Linked DNA regions of Homo sapiens: region 1 is reported to be linked to region 2. Evidence: microRNA targets listed by miRTarBase, many of them from high-throughput screens and not tested one by one. Region 2 holds a microRNA gene; the other region holds the end of a gene's coding sequence.
What was found. Region 2 holds the annotated microRNA hsa-miR-152-5p (AGGUUCUGUGAUACACUCCGACU, at 1,267-1,289, shown strand). A microRNA usually pairs through its seed, bases 2 to 8, with sites in the 3' UTR of a target mRNA and lowers its output. Matches are read on the target gene's strand: a 7mer-m8 pairs with bases 2 to 8, a 7mer-A1 pairs with bases 2 to 7 and ends in A, and an 8mer does both.

Region 1: miRTarBase lists PYGO2 as a target of hsa-miR-152-5p. Seed matches in the 3' UTR shown: 7mer-A1 at 2,318-2,324.

What each region holds. Positions count from the first base shown.
Region 1 is chr1:154,955,876-154,959,355 of GRCh38, forward strand. It overlaps PYGO2 (pygopus family PHD finger 2), which reads right to left. Exons shown (of 3, transcript NM_138300.4): 3 at 1,151-3,480. The coding sequence ends at 2,904. It overlaps PBXIP1 (PBX homeobox interacting protein 1), which reads right to left and starts at 224. Exons shown (of 11, transcript NM_020524.4): 1 at 194-224. RefSeq lists an enhancer at 3,410-3,480.
Region 2 is chr17:48,035,499-48,038,498 of GRCh38, reverse strand. It overlaps MIR152 (microRNA 152), which reads left to right and starts at 1,252; the gene lies at 1,252-1,338. It overlaps COPZ2 (coat protein complex I subunit zeta 2), which reads left to right and starts at 702. Exons shown (of 9, transcript NM_016429.4): 1 at 702-832; 2 at 1,574-1,648. The coding sequence starts at 722.

The sequences.
Region 1 (3,480 bases), not on the chromosome of region 2:
CAAAGGATCTAGGGCCACTTGCCTGGGGTACCCAGAGCAAGTTCCTGTTGTGTTAGCGTCGGCACCTGGCCTTCCTCCCCCAGCCCAGAAATGAAAAGCAGCTCATTCCTTCTAGATTAGTTCCGCCTTCCCTTTTCCTTATTCCACCCCCTTCAAAGCGAATCTGTGGACCCCTTCCCAGCTAAGGCATTACCTGAACCAGCTCTTGCTTCGGTCTTCAGCTTAACTTGTTGCAGGCTTCCCTTTGTTTGCAGCCCGAGAAGAAAATCATGTGACCAGAAACTGACCAATGAAAAGTCAACTTCCCCAAGGGGGCGGAAACTTTTGGCCAATAAGAGCAGGAATTGAGAGCCAGGGGAGGGGAAGGGAGGTCTAGCGACACGGCCCTAAACCTGGGCTTACCTCCTGGTGGGCGACCGGGGTCCCAGCTAACCGAATCCTGAGTTTCCTGCCCTTCTTTCCCAGTGTCTAAACAGTTTCTAGAGGGAACCCCCACAAACTGAGAGAAAAGCAGACGGTGCCGTCTTCTGAGATGACGAAGACAAGGGGCCAGGTTGGCCCCAGGATAGACAGAGACAGCTGTGAGATGGGGGAAGGGAGAGGGACAGGTCGCAAATCCAGGGTGTGGAAATAGCCCTCCTGCCATTCTCCCCAATCTGCTCCAAAACAGACTGCTTAAAAGATGCCATTGCTACTTTAAAAAACGGTTGGGGGACGGGAACGATCTGAAAAACATCCCAAAATGAAATTTGCTAGGACAGAAGCAGCCCCTCCCCTCACCCTTAGAGCGACACTTGCTCCCTAACCCAAACAACTGGGAGGTGGGTGGGGTGCTAAACCCAGAAGAGCTCAAGCACTTGTCTTCCAGAGGCTGTGGTGCCAAATCCGCCTGGCTCCAGGCCTGGCCCAGGAATATGCTCAAAAAGGAAACTCAGTTTCTCACAGTGGAGACACAGGGGGATGGGCGGGGAAACACAGGCCTCCCTTGGCTCAGCAGCTTATACCAGGGTCAGCTCAGGGGCCAAATCTGCCATTCCCACTCCCAGGGACCCTGGGGAGCATACATATCCTCAACCCCTAAGCACCCTACCCAGCAGTGACAGCGGCTCATTCCAGCCTTTTCACACAGCAACAGCAAGGAGTCCTTGTCTGGGATTTTAAAATCATTTTATTAATCCAACAGTACAAAAGACCCCCACCACCACCGCATTCTGCCATCACTTTGTTCCAAAAAGTAGTGGAGTGAGAGAGCGAGAGGGAGCAGATCCAGCAAAAACACTCCCCCAGGGGCCATTTTACAAAATGCGGAGCAGGGGAAGACAACACAAAAACAGCAACAGATAAATGGGGCAAACAGAACAACAAACACAAGAGTTGAGCAGCGGGGTGGGGGTGGGGGGTTGCCATCTACGCCGTTTTAGTGTGAGGGACACTGGGAACGATGCCCAGAGGCTGCTCTCCTCCCAGCCTCAAAGGTTGTCAGCTCCACCAGAGCAGGGTCTTCTCTCCTCATGCCAGGAACTGAGAGAAGTGGGGGTAGGGGACCACTAGGTCTTTGCCACTGTATCTTGAGCTGGGGGACTCCTAACTTCTCCGAGGGCCACACCCCATGCCTGCCTTCCCCACCCCATGGAGGAATGTGTGCATGAACAGAAAAGGAGAACGAGCAGCGCTAAGGTCCTCATCAGGCCCCAGGCCCATCTCTGGCAGGCAGTGCTTAAAAAATAAAAAAAGACAAATAAAGCCCAGTGCAGGCCTTTGGCTGAGAGGAATGAGAATTGCTAATTAATCACCAGGCCCAAGAGGATATGAAAGAATAGCAAAGAGAAGCAACAAACTCCAGGCTCTTCTACCTTTGAGTACCATGGCAATGAGGATCCCGCCGCATCCCCTACCCACAGGCTGTGACAGGGCCTCACTTGGATCCTTTTATCATGGAGGAAATGAGGTATAGGGCTCTGCGCCTTTTCAAGCTTTCCTTCAATCAAGCCAGGAAGGCAGGGGAATAAGGGCGCCGAAAGTTGAAGAACACACGGAGTATAATGTGCAACAGATGGGCTGGGGGAGGAGGGTACCACCAAAGTCCAGACTTTCAGGACAGCCCAAACTTCAAATATTCTGGTCTGTCAGATAACATATCCCAATTTTTGGCAAAAATATGGTCATTAGGAGAAAAGCACGAGAGAGGCTGAGAAAGGACCAGTGACTTTGGTATGAAGAAGATACGTCCTGACAGCATCTCTCACCTACTGTCTTGAAGCCCCAAATCACCAAGAAACTGCCATAACCAGGAACTCTCCTGCTTCCTCAGGCTATTTGGTTCTCTGAGGGGGAAGGAGTTGGGTAAGTCTTGGAGGAAGCAAAGGAGTGGGTAGAAAAAGGGGAAAATCCCCATTTATTCCCTAAAGCTGTCTCCCAGAGCCCATAAAAGGGCTATTGCAGGGATGGCAAGACCCCAATTCCTCTGGCCAGAAACCTTTAACACTTGACTCCAAAAACTAAGGCTGGAGCTGTGGGGTTCAGTAGGGGTGTTAGGCACAGGTGTTAGGGGCATCCATCATCAGCAGAGGGAACACCCCTGCCCTCCGGATCTTCCTCCAGCCCCTTTTCTCTTGCAGCCACACTCCTGGGCCTCCAGAAATAGCCACAAAATGGCTCTGCTCAGCAGGGCTTTGGTTTCCTGGATCTCTGTAGATCTCAACATGTAAGTTTCCCAAAACAGTGAGCAATCCAGGCTCTTCTGCCTGCCCACCTCAATTCCTTTTCTGCTCCCAGGAGCCACTGTTTCTGCCCCATGGGGATGGAAAGCCAGTGGAAACAAGGACCAAGAGCCAAACATCAAAAAAATCACCCTGGAAGAGCAGGGAGAGACATGTGCACTTCCCTGGGCCACTTCACCAGCGTCACCCATCGTTAGCAGCCACCAGCTGCCCCATGCCCTCACGGATGTAGACAGACTGGATCTCCTTGGTCTTGAGGCAGAGATCGCAGGCCCAGACGGCAGAAGCTTCAGTGGTCAGCAGCCCATAGGCGCTCTCAGTCATGCCTGTGCACTCACGGTGGAACCATTTCTGGCAGGAGGCCTCACACAGAATGGCATCCTGGTCATCGTTCACCTCACTCCGACAGGCACCACATGGGTACACCAAGCCTGGGGGAGGCTGGGGCCCGGAGCCCCCACCTGCCTTGCCAGGGGGTGCCAAGCTGTTGGCATCTGGAGTGCCCCCACCCCGCCCACTGCTGTTCGGGGGGAAACTGGGCTGGTTCCCATTAACAGCAGCAGCCGGGGAGCCTGAGTGGGGCTCCTGGGGAAAAGCAGTAGAAGCAGGTGGATTCAAGGGCTTCCCCCCATCCTCACCACCAGGGCCAGGAAAGCCAGGGTCCGGACCAGGAAAGGGACTTGTGTTAGGCGGCAGGCTGGGGAGCCCCTGACCAGGTCTCTGGAGAGGAGAAGGGCCAAAAGGAGCCCCTGGCTGAGCA
Region 2 (3,000 bases):
GTGAATTTCCCACTTGCCAGTGTACCCTGAAATGAGAGCTTGTCTTAGTTAGACTTAGACCAAAGAAACCAAAACATGCTGCAAAGCCCGATGTCATTGGTGGAGCATTTGTGCTGCTGGGCGTCTGTCTTGCTTCTGATGGTGCCATATCTGTGACTTAGGAGAGCCTGGGGAGGTGTCTCCGGGCCCATGGTTGCCTTCTGCAAGTAGTGAGAGAGGAATGAGAAAGCCTCTTCACAGAGGGGTGTCCCCAGAACTGTCCTCATTTGCTCTTGCTTATAGACCCTGTCCCTGAGATCTAAAGGGTGACCTGACGTATTTGTCCTCATGGTACCTACCAGAGGTCAACAGACAAAAGTGGGCTTTGCTTGTGTTTGCTGCTGGCCCCAGGACAGCCTATAGACACTGGCGCACACCAAAGCCACAGGCCGGAGAGCAGGCAGGAAGCAGGACGAGGGCTGGTCTTGGGGCACCCTGAGGATGCAGAGTTCGGGGATGTAAGGGACTCGGGAAGGAGCCAAGGAGGAGAGAGGGAGAGGAGAAGTGGGGGAAGGAGAGGTGGGGTGAGGGCGGGAGGGGAGATGGGGGAGAACGAGCAAGAGGACGGGGCCCCGAGGAAAGGGAGGCCACGCGCGAGAGGGGGCCGCGGGGCGGCGCGGAGGCGGGGCGGCGGCGGCGGGCAGGCGGCGGGCGGCGCTGTCAGTGCGAGGCGGCGAGCGGAATGCAGCGGCCCGAGGCCTGGCCACGTCCGCACCCGGGGGAGGGGGCCGCGGCGGCCCAGGCCGGGGGCCCGGCGCCGCCTGCTCGAGCCGGGGAGCCCTCGGGGCTGCGGGTACGGAGCGGGCGGGCGCGGGGATCCCGGGCGGCGGGAGCTGGGCAGGGACAGAGCAGGGTTAGGGGGAGCAGCCAACTCAGAACTCGCGCGCCCGGCGGCTGGGAACTTTGTGTCACCCCTGACTGGCCCCAGGACCCGGGAGGAAAAGTTCGTCCCAGCGCCGACCGGAGAGGAGGCCTGTCCTGAGTCCGTCGGCGCGGGGCTGAAGTTCTGGGTCCGTTTGGAGTGGGGGTGGCGGGTGAGTTGCGATTCCGCGGGGAGGGTAAGGAGTGGCCTGTCCGTCCCAGACTCGGCTCCCATCACCGGTGGGTGATGGGCATGCTTCTGGAGTCTACCCGGGCCAGGGCCTGGGGGCGCGCTGATAGCGCAGGTCCAGCCCGGCCAGGGATCAGCTGGAAGAAGGAGGCTCGGCCCGCTGTCCCCCCCGGCCCAGGTTCTGTGATACACTCCGACTCGGGCTCTGGAGCAGTCAGTGCATGACAGAACTTGGGCCCGGAAGGACCTTCTGCACCCAACGGGCACAGCGCCCACTCGGGGCCTGCAGTGGAACATCTGCCTGGGAGTGGAGTGGGCACCTGGGTTGGCCCATGTGGCACAGGGCTGGGCAGAACCAGCTGTGGACCTTGAGGACTGGGGTTGCTGGGGCCTGAGGATGTATCCTAGGGCCAGCAGATCCCATAGACACAGGGTGTCCACCTCGAGTCAGGGGCCAAACGGAACTCTCCTCTCCGGTGTCAGTTGCAGGAACCTTCCCTCTACACCATCAAGGCTGTTTTCATCCTAGATAATGACGGGCGCCGGCTGCTGGCCAAGGTAACCTCTGACCCCACCCATGAGGGACACAGTTCCCACTCAGCTGACACTCCTGTCTCAGGAGAAACTCCACTGTGATCTCTGTGACTCAGGGCAGCTCAGCTTAGACCCCTCCAGAGGTCCTTCTCATCCTCCTGCCTTGTCAAGGTGCTGCTCCCTGAAATGAGGGGTCTCCTCTATTTCTACTCATGTTCCCTGAAATGTTTCCTTATCATCCTGCTACTGGCCAGTTGGACCTGGGCATGGGAAGGTTCTGCCTAATGGGTCAGTGGAGTGTTGAGCCTGGGACCCAGGAGTCTTAGTCCCCAAACCCCCACACAAGTTCTTTTGTTCTTTGGGGTTTGTCTCTAAACCTCCACTTTTGTTCTACAGCTTGGTAAACACTAACGATTTAGTCTAAGGAGTCTAAGGATTTAGAACCAGATGGGATTTTAGAAACTGTATAATCCAACTCTTTAATTTCGTAGATGAAGAAAATGAGGGGTAGAGAAGCTAAGTGAGTTGCCTGAGGTCACAAGTATTAATATCCTAACAGATCCAAACTCAAATTTTATTTATTTACTTATTTAATTTTTTCACTTCTCCCATTTCACAGGTTTCACAGGCAAACTCGGGTTTTTTGACATGAAGCTCAAGGTGGTTTTCACTGTACCCCCATTCAATTAGCTGTTATCTATCCTAGCAAACATGGCCTGAGCGAACCAAACTAAAATAATCCAAAAATAAATTTCTGCTGTCAACACAATTAATTGTAGGGGAGCTATAGCATCTGCATTAGCTATGAAATGCATTATAAGGCCAGGTGTGATGGCTCATGCCTGTAATCCCAGCACTTTGGGAGGCCAAGGCGGGCAGATCACTTGAGGTCAGGAGTTCGAAACCAGCCTGGACAACATGGTGAAACCCTGTCTCTACTAAAAATACAAAGAATTAGCCAGGCATGGTGGTGGGCGCCTGTAATCCCAGCTACTCGAGAGGCTGAGGCAGGAGAATTGCTTGAACCTGGGAGGCAGAGGTTGCAGTGAGCCGAGATCACACCATTGCACTCCAGCCTGGGCAACAAGAGCGAAACTCTGTCTCAAAAAAAAAAAAAAAAAGAAAAGAAAAAGAAAAGAAATGTGTTGTAAGGCCAGGCGCAGTGGCTGATGCCTGTAATCCCAGTACTTTGGGAGGCCGAGGCGGGTGGACTGCTTGAGCCCAGGAGTGCCAGACCAGCCTGGGCAACATGGCACACCCCATCTCTACAAAAAACAAAACAAAACAAAAACAAAAAACAAAAAAACGAAAATTAGCCGGGCGTGGTGGTGTGTGCCTGTAGTCCCACCTACTCGGGAGGCTGAAGTGGGAGGATT